Linked DNA regions of Homo sapiens: all the other regions are linked to region 2. Evidence: fine-mapped expression QTL. A gene starts in region 2. Each other region holds a variant in brackets. All regions are shown on one strand. Distances are from middle to middle. Region 1 overlaps EXOSC7 (exosome component 7). Region 2 holds the start of CLEC3B (C-type lectin domain family 3 member B). Region 3 has its middle 24 kb from the start of CLEC3B.

What was found. PIP is the estimated chance that this variant, and not a neighbour inherited with it, causes the effect. A credible set is the group of variants that fine-mapping cannot tell apart.
Region 1: its variant is the best candidate, but not a certain one, in a credible set for the expression of CLEC3B in esophagus muscle (GTEx, PIP 0.70).
Region 3: its variant is the best candidate, but not a certain one, in a credible set for the expression of CLEC3B in aorta (GTEx, PIP 0.57).

The regions. Positions count from the first base shown.
Region 1 is chr3:44,991,906-44,998,883 of GRCh38, forward strand. EXOSC7 (exosome component 7) reads left to right here. Exons shown (of 8, transcript NM_015004.4): 4 at 5,182-5,347. Among named protein-coding and RNA genes, the nearest start is that of EXOSC7, 19 kb to the left of the region's middle. The variant G/A (reference allele first, on the strand shown) is at 3,403.
Region 2 is chr3:45,021,724-45,028,701 of GRCh38, forward strand. It overlaps CLEC3B (C-type lectin domain family 3 member B), which reads left to right and starts at 4,580. Exons shown (of 3, transcript NM_003278.3): 1 at 4,580-4,748. The coding sequence starts at 4,640. RefSeq lists enhancers at 4,960-5,461, 5,462-5,961.
Region 3 is chr3:45,046,913-45,053,890 of GRCh38, forward strand. No RefSeq gene overlaps it. Among named protein-coding and RNA genes, the nearest start is that of CLEC3B, 24 kb to the left of the region's middle. The variant A/G (reference allele first, on the strand shown) is at 4,011.

The DNA.
Region 1 (6,978 bases), 30 kb before region 2:
TAAGTGGCTCAGCTAATGTAATCAGCCGGGCAAGTAGAATCACCATGAGAGAGTCACAAAACCCCATTTCCTACAGAGATGGGAGAGGTTACCAAGCACTGATCGCTGCCACCTGTATCAGAACCTCAATTGAGTCTTCAAGGAGCATAATTATTTTAATTGCATAAACAAGTGTGTCCTTTTATTCTGAATCAGTGAATAGGAATGGCTTCTGGACACCCGTGGATGTGCCCAGCAATAAGGGTGCCACACACCCACTCCCACCTGGACTCCAGGCATAGGGCCTCTGCTGGAGAGCTCAAGGCATTTGCCTATCCACAGGCTGAAACATAGTTGCTGCCCAGTGGAAGGAAATAAATTGGTGGTGATGGTGGTGGTGATGGTGGTGAGGGTTTCTTCTGCTGCTCTGAGTCTAGTTTGATTTAACTTCTTGTTAGCAACTTCCAGTTTTAATTAAATTGCCAGGGGTAGAGAGGTCTCAGAAAACTAATTGATTTTCTGCCAACCCATTTCACTTGGTTTTGTCTACTTGGGATGATAATACATGGAGCCAAGATAGACACTGTCGCCACCTCCATAATTTACCCTGTTTCTTGGGAATGACGAAAAATCTTTGATATAGCCCTCACAGCCCTTTGGAAAGACTGCTGCACTGACCCTGAGCCCTGTTCCAGAGATGCCTGGCAGCACTGTCACTAAACTGGGAGCAAAATCTGACCTTTTCATGTCTTTGGTTTGCTGGTTGTAGCTGAGAGTAGGCTATTTTAAATGAGAATTTGGAAACTTTAGGAAAAGGTGGTTTCTATCTAAAGCCCAAAGGAAGGGAAGATTTTAGTGAGCTGGTGTGTCACCCTGCGCTGCCACTAGGCGGCGAGCCATCAAGTTGCTTCTCAGTTCTCCGACCATTGTGTTGATGGGTTTAGGACTGTGGTTTAACCTCTTAGAGAGGCTTGGGTTTTTAACTAGGGGAGTTTAGGAGAACATTTTTCATTCATAAATGTTTCAGAATACTCCGCACTTGTCACTTCCCTTTGGGATCTTAACTATTTTTCAATGTGAACACTTGTATTTTTCACTAAAATTGAACCAGAATCTTCAAGCCTGCATTGGTGGTTGGAGTCACTATATCTGGGTTCCTTGCCTGCTTAGTGCTGCTAAAGGGGACACTGTTCCTGGCTGAGGGGCTGGGGGTGGGTACAAAGCAGAGAGGCAACCTGCAGAAGCCTTTTGAGGCTAATTGTAATCAAAGTCTCCCAAGCTGATGAGATAACTCTCGCAGACACTTCAAACAAAGGCTTGTGATGAAAACCTCAGAATATACTTACTATTGGTCTGGTACCCATTTACAGGGAGGCTTCTACAGGCTCAGACATGAGCACATGTACACTCAGAGGAATCAGCCTTAGGGCCTGTGTTGGGGCTAGATGACTACTGGAGGGGTAAGGCCCAGGTCAGCCCTGCCTAGGTACCCACTAGATCACTTTTTCTGCTGTGGGCCTGGCCTGACCTGGACGTAAGACTTCATAGATTTGTAGGCTAGATTGATTGCCAGGCAAGCAACAGTGGGCCCAGTGTCTAGAGTCCCTTTCCAGGTAGGCATGGCCTTGATCTCAGCCTACCCCAGTTAAACCAGAGATGTTCCAAGCAGGAGGGTAGAGGTGATGAGTCAGAAGGGGTGGAGAGCTGGGAGGGGTAGCATTCCCAGGATCTTAATTAGTTTATCCAGCTCAGTAAACAATTTCCCACAACTCTGGAAGAGGGACTGGTCATGCTTTATGAAGGGTCAGAATTGGTTTTGGTAAATGCAGAAAGCATTTGGTTTTATGCCCAAAAGACCAAGTGTGTACACCCCCCACTGAAGGAGTAGATTGTGATGCATATGAGCAGGCAGCTACAATTACCAGCCTGTGTTTTCTTTCTCTCTCTAACAGAGCAGAGCAGCTTTTTATTTAGGGCTTCCTTGGTCAACATTCCTTGACTCCAACATTTGTTGTCTAGTGATAAGTTCCAAGACCAAAGCATACATTCATTTCCCTGAGGCAAAAGGTAAAACCAAGGAAAGTGAACCTGACTAATGTTAGACTATAAACCAAGCTTGCCAAATTACAGATTCAAGGAGAGTACAGGGAAGCATAGAAGATAAGGGCCAGGCTGCCTGGGTTAGAATTTTAGCTTACCAGGCACAGTCATCATGTGGCCTTGGACAAATTACATAACCTCTCTGTGACTCAGTTTTCTTGTTTCTAGAATGGAATCCATACCTCCTAGGGTTGTTGTGAACATTAAATGAGTTAATACACCTAAAGTACTAAGAGTGGTGTCTAGCTCATGCTAAACATTAAAAAAAAAAAAAAAAAGATAAGGTCTCCCTTCTTGTAAAATGAGAGAGTTAGACCATCTGGGGTTTCACAGTGTCATCCCACAGGTCAGATCCCACCTGGGAGATTTTTGTTTCATGTAGGGATTTTTTTTTTTTTTAAGGTGGACCTTAAATCAGGGCTAGAAAGTTTGCCACAGCTTCCATCATTCTCTATTAGTTATATGTGGCCCTTTGTTCAGATACATGTAGTAACCTTGCTGACCCCTATAGCCATTTGGGTTTTTATCCTCTGGAGATGGTCTCTAAGGCCTTTTCCAGGTCTACATTTCTGTCTAAATTTGTCAGAAAGAGTCCTTGGGCTGTGAGTGCCCAGTAGTGAAGTGGAATCCTCATTTCTCTATTCCAGCCTTTGTCTTCACACATCAGCAGAATATGGGGTCTGTGGCTTTCTTATGTTGCTTAAAGCATTGTACCCCATCCCCCACCCTGAACAATTGCTTTCCGTTTTCCTAGCCTCCTCCCCAGAGTCACTGCACAGCTATGGCACCATCCAGTTACAGGAGAGTTCCTTGGGCTCATGAGTCTCTAAACCTTCCTCTCTGTCTGACTGCTGGCTATGGTGGAAGAATGGGTGTGTGTGTGTGTGTGTGTGTGTGTGTGTGTGTGTGTGTGTGTGTGTGTTTTAAGCCATTTAAAAATAGGTAAAAATTTCCACTTTAACCCAGTGTCAAAAAAAAACCAGTGGGGCATGGGTTTGTTGTTGTTGTTGTTATTTTGAGACGGAGTTTCACTCTTGTTGACCAGGCTGGAGTGCAGTGGTGCGATCTCAGCTCACTGCAACCTCTGCCTCAGGTTCAAGTGATTCTTGTGCCTCAGCCTCCTAAGTAGCTGGGATTACAGGCATGTGCCACCACGCCCAGATAATTTTTGTATTATTAGTAGAGACGGGGTTTCTACATGTTGGTCAGGCTGGTCTCGAACCCCCGACCTCAGGTGATCCACCCGCCTTGGCCTCCGAAAGTGCTGGGATTGCAGGCGTGAGCCACCACGCCTGGCCAGGGGCATGCATGGTTTTATAGGTA[G/A]ATTAATTTAGACAGTTGGACCTGGGAAGCTCTATAAATCATCTCCCAAGGCTGTAGAAGAGTTAGTGCATTAATCCCAAAGAAATTAGTCACACCCAGGAGGATGTGCCCACTACATTCAGGGAAAGGTAAACATTTTGAGTGTAAGCATCTCTGGCTGGATTTGTGTACACAGAAATCTCTGTAGATGTATTTTTAAGCACTTAAGACCTGGGACTTAATATTGATTGCTTAGTGTTTAAATTAGAAACAGGTTGTGTTTTGCTGGCTGTGCAAAGTAAAAACCTGGTCCCTGTTGACTTGATTATTTCACCATAAATGAGCTGCTTTTCTTGGCTCAGTGCCTGAGTCCAGCAAAGGCAGGGAACAGCGAGGTTGCTATGGCAGTAATGAAGTCTCTCTTGGGGACTTTAAAGGGGATTCTGCTGGCTCACAGTGGTAAAGGAGGAGTACATAATTAGAGAGGCAAAATTTTATGTAACAACATAGTCTGATTAATTTGGGATTCATTCTTCCACCTATATTACTAAGTGAGATTTCTTTTAGTGTTACACAAATAGGGTGGGCACTGCCATGGGCGTTCACACAGGTTTTGCTTTGCCTGGAATCTTCCTGCCTCTCTGGCCTGACCAGCTCTGCTCATCCCAGGTTTGAGGTCGCCTTTAAACCTGAATGCTAATTGACACTCCTGTGCCCCTACTCCCGCTTCTACCTCACTGTTTGCTCCCTATGGTGAAACTCCCCTACCTCACTGGAACTGCTGGCTTTGGGTCTGCATCCACCTCACTTAGTCTCTAGGTCTCTGGTAGCTGGTGCAGGGCTGGGTGCCTTCCAGATGGGCAAGGGGTCAGAAGGCTTTAATATGTGATTTTATAGAGTCCATGCTGAAACCACTGGCTTCTTACCTTTCTAGTCCTTTACTGTTACAGTAAAATAATTACTAGAATGTTACTTACCTCATATACATATTAAGGGTTTGTTTGTATTAAGCCAAAAACTCTCAGAAATGTCCTGTTAAACACTTCAGTGTTTTTAGGGTGGCTAATGTTGAATCCTGTTAGTTTTGTTGAGGTTATTGGGCATAAATATCAAGAAGCCAAAAAGGGAAAAAAAAAGTTTTTCTCTTGAAAAATATCAAATGAAGGAGGTAACCTACTACTTACAAGCCAACAATCTTTCCCTTGCTTTCTTTCATTTTCCTTCTCTTCAGTACAGTGATATCTAAAGTTTCTGACAAAGCTCTGACATACTATCATACATGTCTTTTAAGTTATTCCAGAAAGGTTATTGTACTTACATTGTGGTTTTTATATTGAGAGTATCGTAGTGTGTTCTAAAGCTGTGAAACTAGAGGTGGTGTATATGACAAAACCCCTCTGTAACCCAGACTGCTTCATTCCCTAGGCCTCTCAGTTTCCTAGGCCTGCCAGAGAAGAGTATTTATTATACTCTGAAGATAAGAGAGTTAATTATTATCGGCCGAGGTTCACATTACCATCACTCTCCTGTTTCTCTTTGACTAAAGATGGCTTCTGTTAGATGCTATTGGGAAATCCCATCACACACACTGACAAATCCAGGTCACAGTGCTGGTCTGGTTCATTACATGTGTCTGGAGTCAGGAAAAGTGGCAGATGCCATCCTTTCCTCATCTCAGTGACTTTCTGTCGAGCAGCTGGCTCTTCCAGCATTCTACAGGGAAACTGGAATAAAGCTTTGCCTCTTTGCTTTTTGCACTTGGAAAGACTCACCCAGTTTTTTTGTTTCTGTTTTGTATAGTTCAGCCAGTGCTACCCCTGAATTTGAAGGTAGAGGAGGTGATGACCTTGGCACCGAGATCGCTAACACCCTCTATCGGATATTTAACAATAAAAGCAGTGTCGACTTAAAGACCCTCTGCATTAGTCCTCGGGAGCACTGCTGGGTTCTCTATGTGGATGTGCTGGTGAGTATCATCGTGCTGTACTGGCCACATTCTACCTTTGTTGGAAAGACTAGTTGGCCTATTTTCCTTCCAGTGCTTTTTTCCTCTTCAGGTGGATGCTTTCAACTTATAGGGTGGGATTAGTTGGGAAAAGATGGTCTCCTATAATAATTTTTTTAAAAATTAAATACAACATAGATGTAAGCAGCATATATATAATGCCATTCTATGATAAAATTATAGTCATATCATGATAGCACCTAAAATTGCCCATAAAAATTGTCCAGGAAGAGTAAAACAAGAGATGGTCTCTGGATGGTGCCAGACAGAGTTCATGGGCAGAATTTAAGCAGGTTGGTACATTCTGTGTGGAAGGATGATTAGCTCTTTACATGCATTTTCATTTAAACCTTATAAACCTGTTACAAATGGACACTGTTATATTTCCCATTTATAAGTGAGGAAACTAAGACAGACAGAGGTAAATCAACTAGCCCAAGAGGTCTCAGCTTGTGAGTAGTGCTGTTGAGTCTCAAAGCCAGGTCTGTATGATGTGAACACCTGGTTTGACTTCACTGTGCCATTGTTTCTTTTAAACACCTCAGAACGTGCCTGCCTTTAGTTTCCTGGGTGAGGCCCCAGAGGCCCTGCCTCCTCCCACACAGAGTCTACTCCCCTGGGAGTCTTTTGAGTCCAGCCCGTCATTTCTTCCCTTGTACTTTGCCTCCCAAATACTCCTCTACCCAGGTTTTGGCACTCGACAGTAACTTCTCTGTGTAGCTCTAATTAATTTTTTTTTGTTTTTTTGTTTTTTTTTTTTTTGAGATGGAGTCTTGCTCTGTCACCCAGGCTGGAGTGCAATGGCGTGATCTTGGCTCACTGCAACCTCTGCTTCCCAGGTTCAATCGATTCTCATGTCTCAGCCTCCTGAGTAGCTGGGACTACAGGCACATGTCACCATGCCTGGCTCATTTTTGTATTATTAGTAGAGATGGGGTTTCATCATGTTGGCCAGGCATGTCTGGAACTCCTGACCTCAAGTGATCCACCTGCCTCGGCCTCCCAAAGTGCGGGGATTACAGGTGCAAACCACCGTGCCTGGCCTTACGGGGATTACAGGTGCAAACCACCGTGCCTGGCCTTAATTTTGCTTTTGTATAATCACGTAGCAGTTGGTTGCTTGTTTATATATAGGCTCTTGTTGGGTCTGTTTTGAACCATGAGATTAGCAACTACATCTTCCACTTCAGATGAAGGACAAAAAGCTAAGCTATTGGCCAAATAGATTCTTTAATGAATGTGCAGATAAAGGAGATCTGTGAACTGATGGTGAACTTCATGAAAAGAAACAGCCTGGCTCTGCATGTTGGCTCTATTGAGACAGGGTGGAGTTTTCTAGATATTTTAAAATTAATTTGATATTGGATGGAGCATAGTCAAAAGGTAGCAGTGGTAACCATTATCTAGCAGGTTACTGTTGCAATGCTACCACTAATAGGTAAAAATAATGAAATTACAAATCTGTTTGCTTTTTTTCCATCTCTGATAAGTGGGATGTACCTTGTAGTATGATTCCTACTAAGTTGGCAATTTTTCAGGTCCTGGGTTTGAGAAGGTGGGACCTGGCAGCCTGTAGTCCTTACTGAGGATGG
Region 2 (6,978 bases):
CGTGCAAATGCTCTGCTCCGTGCTCAGGGCCCCCACCCTTGGCAGGACTACTGTGCACTGGGCCAGCCCAGCTGGCCTCCTGCTTCCCTGGCCTACTACATAAGAGATCCCTCCCTAAGTCAGACAGGGGAAGGTGGGGTCCCTAGAAGGCAGGGAAAAGCCTGAAGTACATAGTATTGTATTTTCTTTTGGAAGAATCTCAAACTCAGAAAATTTGCAACGACAGTACAAAGAACATTCTCCCCCTGAACTATGTAAGTTGTCAACACAGTACCATATCGCTGTCTAATACTTCAGTATGTGTGTTTCCTACAGACAAAGACACTCTCCTACATAATCACAGCACACCATCAAGTAGGACCATAACAGGGATACCGTCATGCGTTGCTTAACAATGGGAATACGTTCTGAGAAATGCATTGTCAGGCGAGTTCATCGTTGTGCTACCATGACAGAGTGTACTTACACAAACCTAGGTGGCATAGCCTACTACACACCTAGGCTCTCAGGTATGGTATGTTGCTCCTAGGCTACAAACCTGTACAGCACGTGACTGCACTGAATACTGTAGGCAGTTGTAACATAATGGTAAGTATTTGTGTATCTCAACATAGAAAAAGTGGAGTAAAAATATGGTATAAAACAGCAGTCCCCAACCTTTTTGGCACCAGGGACTGGTTTCATGGAAGACAATTTTCCCACGGATGCGGGGTTGGGGTGATGGTTTCAGGATGAAACTGTTCCACCTCAGATCATTGGGCGTTAGATTCTCATAAGGAGTGTGCAACCTAGACCTTCTCATGCACAGTTCACAATAGGGCTTGTGCTCCCATGAGAATGTAATGCTGCTGCTGACCTGACAGGAGGCGGAGCTCAGGTGGTAATGCTCGCCTACCCACCACTCACCTCCTGCTGATGGGCCTAGTTGCTAACAGGCCACGGACCAGTACTGTGGACCAGTACTGGTCCATAGCCTGGAGGTTGGGGACTCCTGATATAAAAGATAAAGAAAATGATACACTGGTATAGGGCACTTACCATGAATGGAGCTTGCAGGACTGGAAGTTGCTCTGAGTGAGTCAGTGAGTGGTGAGTGAACGTGGACATTACTGTACACTACTCTGGACTCTATAAAACACTGCACACATAAGCTGCATTACATTTTTTTAAAAAATGGTTTTCTTTTTTAATAATAAATTAACCTGAGCTTACCATAACTTTTTTTACTTTGTAAACTTTTGAACTCATTTAACTTTTTTACTTTTATAACATTTAGCTTAAAACACAAACACATTGAACAGTTGTACAAAATTATTTTCTCTATATCCTTATTCTATAGGCTTTTTCTAGTTATTATTACTTTTTTACTTTTTAAACTTTTTGTTAAAAACTAAGACACAAACGCACATTAGCCCATGCCTACACAGGGTCAGGATTATCAGTGTCACTGTCTTCCACCTCCACCTCTTGTCTCAGTGGGAGGTCTTCAGGGACAGTCACACACATGGAGCTATCATATCCTATGATAACAGTGCCTTCTTCTGGAAAACCTCCTGATGGACCCACCTTAGGCTGTTTCACAGTTAACTTTTTTAAAAAAAAAGTAGAAAGAGTACACTCTAAAATAATGATAAAAAGTATAGCACAGTAAATACATAAACCAGTGACACGGTCATTTATTATCATCGTATTAGTTCATTCTCGCACTGCTATAAAGAACTGCCCAAGAATGGGTAATTTAGAAAGGAAAGAGGTTTAATTGACTCACAGTTCTGCATGGCTGGGGAGGCCTCAGGAAACTAATAATCATGGTGGAAGGCAAAGGAGAAGCAGACACCTTCTTCACATGGCAGCAGGACAGAGTGAGTACAAGCAGGGGAAATGCCAGATGCTTATAAAACCATCAGATCTCATGAGACTCACTATCACGAGAACAGCATGGGAGAAACTTGCCCCCATGGTTCAATGACCTCCACCTGGTCTTTCCCATGACACATGGGGATTATGAGGATTACAATTCAAGGTGAGATTTTGGGTGGGGACACAGCCAAGCCATATCATTCCACCCCGGCCCCTCCCAAATCTCATGCTCTCACATTTCAAAGCACAATCATGTGGGGCAGAATGATATGGTTTGACTATGTTCTCACCCAAATTCTTATCTTGAATTGTAATCCTCATAATGCCCATGTGTCAAGGGAGAGACCAGGTGGAGGTCATTGAACGATGGGGGTGGTTTCCCCCATGCTGTCCTTGTGATAGTGAGTTCTCATGAGATCTTATGGTTTTATAAGTGTTTGGCAGTTCCTCCTGCATTCATTGTACCTCCTGCCTCCTTGCGAAGAAGGTGTTTGTTTCCCCTTCACCTTCTGCCACAATTGTAAATTTCCTGAGGCCTCCCCAGCCGTGTGGAACTGTAAATCAATTAAACCTCTTTCCTTTCTAAATTACCCAGTCTTGGGCAGTTCTTTAGAGTAGTGTGAAAACGGACTAACAAAATCAAGTATTATGTGCTAACATGACCTTATATGCTCTACTTCGATATGACTGGCAGTAAATTTGTTTACACCAGCATCACCACAAACTTGGGAATAATGAGTTGCACTATGACTTTACAACCCTTTGTGACATCACTAGGTGTTAGGAATTTTTCTGCCCCATTATAATCTTATGGAAGCATATCACATATGTGGCCTGTTGTTGACTGAACTGTCATGATGCAGCATGTGACAACACATCACTGCCGTGTGCTCCTCAGACCCCATCAGATTTCTCTGGTTGTCCCAACTGCATCCTTGAGAATGGAGGGTCCAGTCCAGAATCACATATTGCATTTAGTTCTGTGTCTTCAGTCTCCTTCAGCCTGAAACACTTCCTCAGCCAGGAGCTTTGAAAATTACTGGCAGTCATTTTGCAGAATGCTCCTCCATTTGGGATTGTCTGATGTCTCTCTGGCCGGAGTCCTATGGAGTGATGCCACATTCTCACTGCAGCCCCCCAGGTGCTGCAAGCTTTTTATTGGCCCTGTTGATGTTTACTTTGGTCACAGATGAGGTGATGTCTGCCAGCCTTCTTCACCATGAAGTTGCTCTTTTTCTCTCTGGAATGGATAAGTGTTTTGTGGGCAGATACTTTGAGGCTATGTAAACATCCCATTGAAGAACATCAGACTTTCAATGCGTTCCCTTACTTACTTATATCTGTGTGCACTGGTGGTTTCCCATCTGTTACTGTCACTATGTTGGTGCTCAAATTGTCCCTGATTCTGACCACTGAAGGCTCCTTCAAGCTGGCTCTGTGTCCTACTGACGTGTTCCCATTATTCATTAAGCACTTCCTTGTTTTCTGGCAAAACAACAAGTTCCGGGCTCATTTTCTGCACCCCACTCCTACTTCCCAGTGCTAGAATCAGCCGTTTCTGCAAGGTGCTCTGGTTCCTTTAGTGGAAAGTCATATTCAGAAGCCAGTATTCAGGTGCTAGGAGTGCTCCAGGCTATGCGGGGCTGGCTGCTCCAGGCCCCCCAGTGACTGTGGGGACTAGACACACACACATTTCCATCTATATATATGGACTTATCTTTATGTATTCAAGGCCACAAGGGTACACTGATCATTCCGATTTTAATCCCACACAACAGGATTCATTCCAGTTTTCTCTCCATATACATAACTTCCTTCTCTGACAATAGGAAACCTAACTCCCACTGTCTTCAGTAGATTTATTTGATCAGTATCCCTGTGTGTAACCAATCTCCCGTCTCTGCCACCAGCCTCTCTCCCACATGGATCCCCTCCTTGCCTCACTTGGACTCCAGCACTCCAGGCAGGGCCTTTGCTTTCCCCAGGATGCTCCCTCCACCCTGCTGGGCTCCCACACCCCACACCAGTCCACCCCTTGAGGGCACATTCTCCCCACATCCTCTCTGGTACCTCTGGGGCACGATGGCTTCTCCCTCCGCCACCTTTGCTATGCCCCACTTTGTGGCTTTAGGACAGGACTCAGGAGAAAGGGAAGACAAGAAGGGAAGGAATCCCTTGGATTTTTTAACCAAAAAATGCATCAAGTACATGGAGACAGAGCCACAAAATAATCATAACAAATATTCTAAACCAATCAGACAGCCAGCCCCAGATCACCCTATAAGGGGGCATTGCTACCCCGTGACAGCTGGGTAGCCTGGGCAAATTCCCTAACCTCACCGAGCCTCAATTTCCTCAATGGTAAAATGGGGAAAGGACAGTGCTTCCCTCGTGGTTTGGGTGTGAAGCTTCTGTGAGTTAATGTTAGTGAACAGCCAGCCTCAGCCCCTACCCAAGGTAGCTGCTCCGCAGATGTGATGACAACCACCGTGTGTTTCTCAGAATCCTAGGAAATAAGGGCTTCTTTCTAGAAGGCAGGGCCAGGATGCTGCGTGGGTGTTCCCTGGCAGAGAGGCTCTGTGGCCCTCAGGACTTCATCCTTCTGCAGGCTTGTGTGTTTGTTTTATTTTTTTGGCACGCCTGCAGCCAAGTTGGGGAGGGTTTCCTGGACAGAGGTCCTTTGGCTGCTGCCTTAAGACGTGCAGCCTGGGCCGTGGCTGTCACTGCGTTCGGACCCAGACCCGCTGCAGGCAGCAGCAGCCCCCGCCCGCGCAGCAGCATGGAGCTCTGGGGGGCCTACCTCCTCCTCTGCCTCTTCTCCCTCCTGACCCAGGTCACCACCGAGCCACCAACCCAGAAGCCCAAGAAGATTGTAAATGCCAAGAAAGGTAAGGAGGGGGACAGAGCCCTGTGCCATCTTCCAGGGAGCAGGTCCCCCTCTCCTTAGTGTGTCCTCATGCTCCTTTCCTTCATTTTCCTCCTTTTGAGTCATCTAGGGAACTTGAGTAAAGTGGGCTTTGGGGCTTGGGGGAGTTCTCTCATAGCAGAGTTGGTTGTCAGAATCATAAGAATCCCTGACCCTTAGAGTTGGGAAGAACCTTCCAGATCATCCAAACTGATCTTTGCTCTTCTCTCCTCCCCTCATCCCCAATATTTTAAAGAAACCAAACCTTTGGCCTGGGAGTCTGGCAGCGCTCAGCCCTTACCAGGGAGAGCTGCACAGGCTGGGCTTTGGAGTCTTCCAACCTGTTTTCTCAACTGTAAAATGGGGACAGTGGTATTTGTTCAAAGACTTCTCATGAAGATTTTATGATACAAAATATATAAAGGCACCTCACTTGTTGCTTGATGCACAGGGAAAAGAAAAAGAAGAAGAAATGAATTCTCATTTCTGTAGCATATCACAGCCTTCAGGAAATAAATGTAACTCAGACTAGTCCACCAGAAGCAGCTTTGCTCTGCTTTGTAGCCTCTGGGGATTGGGGTGTCCCTCGGTTGCTTTGGCTACAGCAAGACTTGCCCTTGCAGCCCCGCCTGCAGTGAGGTCACCCCAGGCTGTGTTGAGACAACATCAGTGGAATGTCATGGCAATGGACGGGGCTGTCACCCCCCCAGGGAGCAGAGGCTAGAAGAGAGTCCAAGGGGATGAGGGTGGGGACTGAGGCAGAGAAACAAGCAGCTAGGACCAAGGGCACAGAAAAGGAAAGAAGGGGCTGTGGGGGCCTCCCTTAGGCCCTCCCGGGGCTCTTCATAAATGGACAGTTGCCCACTGGCCAGGAACTAGTGCAGTGCATAAAGGGACATCGGGGCCATGGGGCCTCACAACACTGTGACAAAGAATGGGGCAAATCTGGCTGCTGATAAAAAAATCATCTTCAAGATTCAGTTTACAAAGTGAAAAAAGAAACATTCAAAAGAGAATGAGTATGATGCTGACATTTGCTTTGAAAAAGGGATTTATATAATAATACATTTTTACTTGTATGTGCATAAGTTCTTTCTGGAAGGATCCACAAGAGTGAGTAACAGTGATTACCTCTGGGAAGAAAAACCAGGGGCTGGGCGCAGTCTCAACTGGGAAAGAAACCAGCTTTTTGAACTGTTTGGATTTTAAAAAATTATGTGTGTATATTACCTTCCACAAAATGTTCATTTAAAAAGAGAAGACAATACCGTGCATAGTTACGTCTATGAGCATTAGCCAAAATCGCCACCAAGGGAGAGCCTTTGTAAAAGATGCAGCTCCAAAGGCAAATCATAGAATTTTTGAATGTGGAAAACCATCGCCAGCTTCTCAAGTTTACCAAAGATTCAGTATTAATATAATTATGTAAATCTTTTTAAACTCATGTTAAAAAAAAAAGGGTCAGAGCACGTGATGCCTTGGTTCTCTCCAGCTGTCACACTTGAACCCTGGCCCTATGTGGTCTCCATAGAAGGGGCCCCTGGAGTTCCAGGGCTACAGGCCAACAGAACAGCCACCCAGGCCCTGCCTCTCGCTGAAACCCATGGCAGTCTCCCGCCCACCAACATGGCAGGCACTTATAGAGCTCTTTCTCCACGTAGGCACCAGTCTATATGCTGGACACACAGCAGAGAAACACCGTCTCTGCTCTTAAGACATGAACCATGGTGGTTCTCACTCAGGCATCAACATCATCTGGGAGATACATTAGAATCCAGGTGCCTTGGCCAGGCGTGGTGGCTCAAGCCTGTAATCTCAGCACTTTAGGAGGCCAAGGTGGGAGGATCGCTTGAGGCCAGGAGTTCAAGACAAGTCTGGCCAACATGGTGAAACCCTGTCTCTACTAAAAATACAAAAATTAGCTGAGTGTGATGGTGTACACGTGTAGTCCCAGCTACTCAGGAGGCTGAGGCAGGAGAATTGCTTGAACCTGGGAGGTGGAGGTTGCAATGGGCCGAGATTGCACCACTGCACTCCAGCCTGGGTGACAGAGTAAGTGAGACTCCGTCTCAAAAATAAATCAATAAATAAAATAAAAGTTAAGAATTCAGGTGCTTGGGCCCCACCCCTGGAAATGCTGGTTTAGGGATCTTGGTGAGTTTAGCATCTGCCTTTTCCACAGGTCTTCAGGGATTCCTAGGAGCAGCCAGGAA
Region 3 (6,978 bases), 25 kb after region 2:
CCCCAAAAGTGTTTTGGGGCTCTAAAATACAAGCATATGCTTCACATGTTTCCAGTGAACATTTTCCATGTCAAATATACCTCTGGCTTTTTTTTCTTTTGTCCTGGCAAGCTGTGTTGCTTCTGGATTTTTAATACTCAAACCCCACAAAATGTATCTCTCAATGTTTTTCATCCAGTGTTTTTAAGAAAAATTTCTATTGACAGTCCACAAGACTCAGTGGATTTTAATCAAGATAGGCTGGGAAAGTTTCAGATTACATCCCAAAGACAATGGTTAGAATGGCAGGGCAGGTGTGGGTACACCTCTTTCAGATGTTGCTGTATAGGAAGTGTAGTGCTTGGAATCGAGTTTTACGGCATTTTACTTTCTGACATGATAGTTTCTGTAACTTACATAAGGGATTTGTGTGTGTGTGTGTGTGTGTGCGTGCGTGTGTGAGTGTTTTAGTTACATATTTGGAAATCTACTGGGGACTTGGGGCATTCATTAAGCCAGAGTTTACCATTTAAATAGGACAGAGGGTGCTATTCTGCAGAATGCTTGATTTCCATGAATGGTCTACCATTAGGAGATGGCTGTATGTTGCCCTGTTGCTCTGGGGCTGGTTCAGGGATAATCCTTTCCATATGAGAGCTCCCAGTCTCAGAAGTCTCCCCACTAAGCCTATCTAGAATGCCCCTCAGTGCCCATTTAAGTCACCTGTGCTGCTGGTTTCCTTGCAAGAGGACTAAGAGGATCAGCCGGGCAGTGTTTCAAAACCTCGCCACTATTGGCATTTGGGGCTGGATAATTCTTTGTTGTGGGGGCTGTCCTGGGCATTGTAGGATGTTTTCCAGCATCCCTGACCCCTGCCCGCTAGACGCCAGCAATACCCTGCTTCAGCTGTGATAGCCAAAAATGTCTGCAGACCAGTCCAAATGTCCCCTGGGGGGAAAAATTACCCCCAGTTGAGAAGCTGAGAACCACTGAGGTAGAGGGTAGCTGCAAATTTCCTCACAGAAAGGTGCCATGAAAATGTAGTAGTTGAAGTAGAATTTATTTATTTTTGATGCTTCTAATTGCAATTCTGTTACTTAACATGACATAAAGAAACCATATTTCCCAAAGCAAAATTCAGAATGCACAACAAAAGCTTTTTTTAAAAAACAAAAACAAAGACTCTTGTACGAATGTATTTACTCACCAGCAGTATACAGTTTAAGGCACATTTGTATAGGGGTTTTTTTCTGCTCTCTTCCGCCTTTATCCTTCACAGGTATTTCCCTTAATCAATCTCTTGTATGTTTAATTCCTTCTTGGCCTCCGCTTCTAGGAGAACTTAAATGGATTCAAAGACTCAAAAAAAGTGGTAGTGGCAGCTGAAGCCAATATGGCCATGGAGGGCACCACTCAGATCCCTTTAACAGAACCTGCTGCAAGGAGCAGAGTGGACTGACAGCCTTGGCTGCCACCCCTAAGGACACTAGACCAGACTTACCCCGGCTGCCTCTGGGCAGTGACTGAGTACGTAGGAGCGTTTGTGCTGATCCATTCCTACCCAACGAGGGTGACTCCTCTCATGGAGAATTTTAGCTTGGGAACTCCCCAGCAATCTGGCCAAGATGTTCTCAGAACTGTACTGCAGTCTGAGGTTCTTCCACCTAGCCTTTCCTGCTCTCTCTTTTACACAGGTGTGGGACCTGTGTTGTGGAGGGCTCTCCCTGCCTATTCCTGCTCCCTTGAACCCTGGATCCTTCACAGGTGTTGCCCCCAAAACATCTCTTACACTTCTAATCCCATCCTGTCTGCTTCTCAGAGAACAGACAAGTAATGAATTCCCTTCACTAAAACAAAATTATGCAAAATATAATATGTATAATAAAATTATACAAGCTATAACAAGGTAATGGAATAATTATACTATTAAAATCAGAGATGTACCAGAAAATCGGCATGTACAATTACCTTAGCTTTGCTTCCCTTAGATGTGTTCTCTTAGGAAAGGATTGCATTCCTAAGAGAATTATCTGTATTAAGGAACAGGCACTCCATAATTGCCTTCCCCACCCCTCCACCTGGAACTTTCTCTAATAATGTAGAAGACACCTGCACACCAATGGTATCATAATCCTTTTTCCTGACGTGGCTTTGGATTCCATTCTATCCAGATAGAGGAATGGAACCCCGGATCCATTCAGTTCACAGAGACACGAATCCTCTAAGCTAAGATGTCATTTTACCCTCACCCCCAAACAAACCTGCTTCCTTGTTCTTGTCTATCCCTCCTCTTCTTCTTCCTCTTCAAATGTGATGACCATTATTCAACATGAAGATATGAGTCTGGGATATAGAGCAGGCTGAAACTTAAGGACTGAGGCTTTGCCTTTGTAGCCAGAAAGAGAAAAGTAGTCCCTGACAGCTGGCTCTTACTGGCCAGGTGCTCATGGCTGGGCTGTAATGTTTTTCTGCTGAACCACAGCCTATCTCACAGATTGCCAGCATCAGACAGGGGCTGGCAAAAACAAGACCATTCTGTAATCACGTCTGAGTAGGGACAAAAACAAGGTCACTGTGAAAATCACAAGAATCACTAAATATCCCCCACTCCAGCTAACACAACTGACTGCTTGCTGTTTTTTTAACCAATCACAGCTTTAGCCCTGCTGCACGCATTCCACCTTCTGCATAAAAATTAAGATGCCCTCTCATAGTATTGCTCCTGCCTCCTGATAGCATCCAATCCAGCGCAAACCCCTGCTTCCTTAAGACGTCTCTCAAATCAGTTAACATGAGCCCATATATATTAGAAGTCCCTTCTAACACCGTCTTACTGAGACACCCCATGGTTCCTCATCACAGACAGACTCCCCCACTGCAACAAATTAAAAAATCCAATTTTGTTCCTGGGGGTCTTTGGCTACAGGGCACAGGCAGTAGTTAGTTGGTCAGGTCCTGGCCAGTTCTATGACTCTGGCTCCCAAGGTGCTAGATTCTGCCTATGAAAGAAAAGGATAAGAAATTAAAGAGTACAAGACAATGAGGAGGAAAAGGATTTCATGACAGACAGCTCAGATGGGGATGAATCTCCTGACCAGAGTTCCCACTCCAACTCTCATTGCCCTGTGACCTTGAACAATTCATACGAATTCTTCCTCATTGGTAAAGTGGAAATACACTTAACCTTCACAGGGCTGTAAAACAAGTTCCAAACCAATCAAGACCGAGAACAAGCCATGTACAGTGGCCAGCATACGGAAAACACATGCTGCACGGGTGGGAGACACTGGTGAGTTGGACTTATAGTGAGTTGAGGAGAAGACCGAAGGTCCTGAGAACTGAGGAGGAGATGAACTGAGAGAGAGTGAAAATCTGGTCATTTTGGGAGAGAGAAGAGCTAAGAACATCAAGGGGAAACAAAGCTGGAAATAGGAATTTAGGACACTGATATGGTTTCGGTGTTTGTTCCCTCCAAATCTCATGTTGAGATGTGATCTCCAGTTTTGGAGTTGGGGCCTGGTGGGAGGTGATTGGATCATGGCGGTGGACTCCACATGAATGGCTTAGCACTATCACCTAATTCTCTTGGTGATGAGTGAGTTCTCACTATATGAATTCACCCAAGAACTTGTTGTTTAAAAGGAGCCTGGCACCTCCTCCTCTCTCTTGCTCCCTCTCTTGCCATGTGGCATGCTGCATCCCCTTCACCTTCTGCCATGACAGGAAGCTTCCTGATGCCCTCACCAGATACAGATGCTGGCACCATCCTTTGTGTACAGCTTGCAGAACCATGAGTCAAATAAGCCTCTTTTCTTTATAAACTACCCAGCCTCAGGTGTTCCTTTATAGCACTGCAAATGGACTAACACAGAGACAGAGGAAATTGGTGACCAACATTATCCCAACTGGGAGTTCTTTGCCCTTGAAGGGTACCTCAGCTTACGACCATCTTGCTAGGGGAAAAGAGATTTGGGGAGGCACCGGGAACTGTAGCAGAGAAATAGTGGTAACGGATAAGGAGCAACATTGGA[A/G]AGATGAGTGTTGAGGGAGAGGCCAAGAAAGACAGGAGAGGGATATCTGTCCCGAAAATGAGGTCCACAAGTCCACAAGCCTGGAGAGCTGACTCAGAGGGAGCCATGGCTGGACAGTTCTCCCCTTACCTTCCTTTGTGCATCAGAAGGAAGCAAATCAGGTAAGAACTGCACAGCAGGGGCCAGGTCCCAGCCTCCCGGTGGCCTTCATGATGCTCTTCCCAAGACTCAACCTTGGGTCTCCTGAACAGTCACCAAATCAGAAACACACAGGCCTTTCAGGAGAATAGAACAATTACGAGGGTCACCTTCCAGAGACGCAGGAGACCAAAGTCAACATCTCCACTTCTAACTAGCGGGTGGAAATAGAGTGTACCGGTTAGGAAAACCAGTGCTTCTAGGAGAGACTAGACCTAATGGGACTGTGAACTCAAAAGAGGAGAAAACAGAAAGGTGCCTGGAAGGTTTTTGGTACTTCTGGGCCAACTTAGTGAAGAATGGGCCTAGCTCTAGGCCTTTAAGCCACGCTACCCCGTCACACGGCTCACATTTTTAGCTGTGTACTTTACCTGTGGGAGGACTGTCAGGTCCCAGGTGGGGAAATGCACGCTGCAAAAGAAAAAGCTGGTCAAAACTAGGATGTAGGGGTGTCTGATGGCATAAACTATTTTTGCTCTCATTGGCGAAAATGTCAGCCAGCAACTCACTTGGCAAAGCCCTTAGTACAGTCTCATGGGTAAATGGGGCTCATTTGCCACTCCCCTTTGTCCTCAGTCAGGGTCCTAGACCTTTCCTCACTCACAGGCTGATGGTCTTGAACCTGGTTATAAGGGGTTTCTGGGCTCTAATTAGAACCACGGTTCCCCACTGATGAGTGCCTCGCTTCTCCCCAGGACTCTGCAGAAGGCCCCAGGGGAGTAGGCAAGGCCTCAGCTCACAGCCTCCTACAGCCCAGCTGCCCCACCCTTGGGCTGTGCGTTGGGCTGGGCCGGTGCCTGCAGGGCTCAGGGCTGAGCTTGAACTGCCATTCTGAGACTAACCATGGGCCCAACCGTGCCTCGGGACTCCCATCCCCACTGTCCAATGACTGCCCCTGGTCCCTGGGGACTCCTTCCCATCCCTTCTCCCCTTTCCCTCCCTTCTCTCCCCCACTCCCATCTGAGGCATCACCCTCTGTGGCCTCCTCCTTCTCCAGGCTCTTCTTTCTCAAAGGTCTTTGTCACTCACTGTTGGAGGATTTTGTATCCACTCTGGCCTAGGTATCTTTTCCCCCGGTTGTCTATAGTTTAAAATCATGGCTTGGAAGTGGAAGGCAAGGTGAAGACAGGTGACAGCTGATTAAAAAATATGCCTCAGGCTGAGCGCGGTGGCTCATGCCTGTAATCCTAGCACTTTGGGAGGCCGATGTGGGCAGATTACGAGGTCAGGAGATCGAGACCATCCTGGCCAACATGGTGAAACCCCGTCTCTACTAAAATACAAAAAATTAGCCTGGCTTGGTGGTGCACTCCTGTAGTCCCAGCTACTTGGGAGGCTGAGGCAGGGGAATCGCTTGAACCCAGGAGGCGGAGGTTGCAGTGAGGCGAGATTGCACCACTGCACTCCAGCCTGGCAGCAGAGTGAGTCTCTATCTCAAAACAAAAACAAAAACAAAACAAAAAACAAAAAACAAACCCAGAAACAAAAGTAAAATACGCTTCAAGACATACCCCATACCCCTTCCTCCCCTGGGAGATGAGGGGGAGGGAAGGGCCCAGGTGAGTCTACTCTTGGAGGCCCTTCCTAACAGCCCAGGATGAGAGCTTTACCTTGTAAACTAGAAACCAGATCTGGGAGAGACTGGGGGCTGAGGTGAGCTGGGATCTTTGGCTAGGGGTTTTTGGAGTAGCCCCTGGAGATGTCTGGGAGGCAATGTCCCCTGAGCACCAGCAGGCCTTTAATGGGCCTCTGTGGCAAGAACACTTGCATGGGAACTTGCTGGAAGGATTTGACCAACTCAAACCCTTGCTTATTGCTTCCTCTCCCCCTTCCTCACCTCATCACGTCCTTACCAACTCAGGGTGGCTGTCCAGATGGGGGTCAAGCACAGTGGCCCGTGTTTGTTCTGCAGAAGCCCATCCCTAGCACAGCCGTTACCTTCAAAACCCTCTTCTTGACTCTTGGGGTCCTCAAAGAACTTGGGAGGGAGGACCTGGAAAATGTCACTTTGGATACTTAAAGGTGGACTAAAACAGCACAAAGGTGCCTGTTTCTCTCCACCCCAAACCATGGCTATGATGAGATGGATCAAGAAATCCCCAAAATGCCACCGTCCCCAGTGGAACCTGTTTGGTTCTCTTTATTCCCCGATGCCCTGAATATGGGTTTTCTCTCTTTTTCAGGTGAGAAGATATTACGTTGCTGTTGCTAAAGGTCTGGTAGTTCTCTATGCAGAGGTTTGGGCTGAAGGTGAATGCTGAGGTGTGCTTGTCTCTTACAGATGCAAAATCTATAACCTGTGAGCTGCTCTGGCCTTCAGCATTCCTGAAGAGCAGGGTGGGATGCATGATTTTCATTTTCAGTATCCAAATGAAAATTATTAAAGAATATCACTGGGAAATCATTACAATATGTTTTAATTAGTTTATAGATTAATGTAGTTTGTTTACTAACGTAAGTAACTTGTAATATGGTCTGTTGCCTTGGGAGCAGAGCTAGAAACGAAAGCTCACAGTTAGGTAAACTGAATAAAGATTGGCAAAGGACTCCCATCACATTTTATTATTGCCCTGATAGCCACAGCCCCTCATTCATTTCTCTTCTAGTTTTGTAACCGCCCAAGGGGTTCACCTTGCCTGTTGCCTAGACAGAGTTGATTCATCAAGACAGGGGAATTGCAATAGAGAAAGAGTAATTTATGCAGAGCAGGCTGTGCAGGAGACTGGAGTTTTATTATTACTCAAATCAGTCTCCCCAAACATTTGGGGAG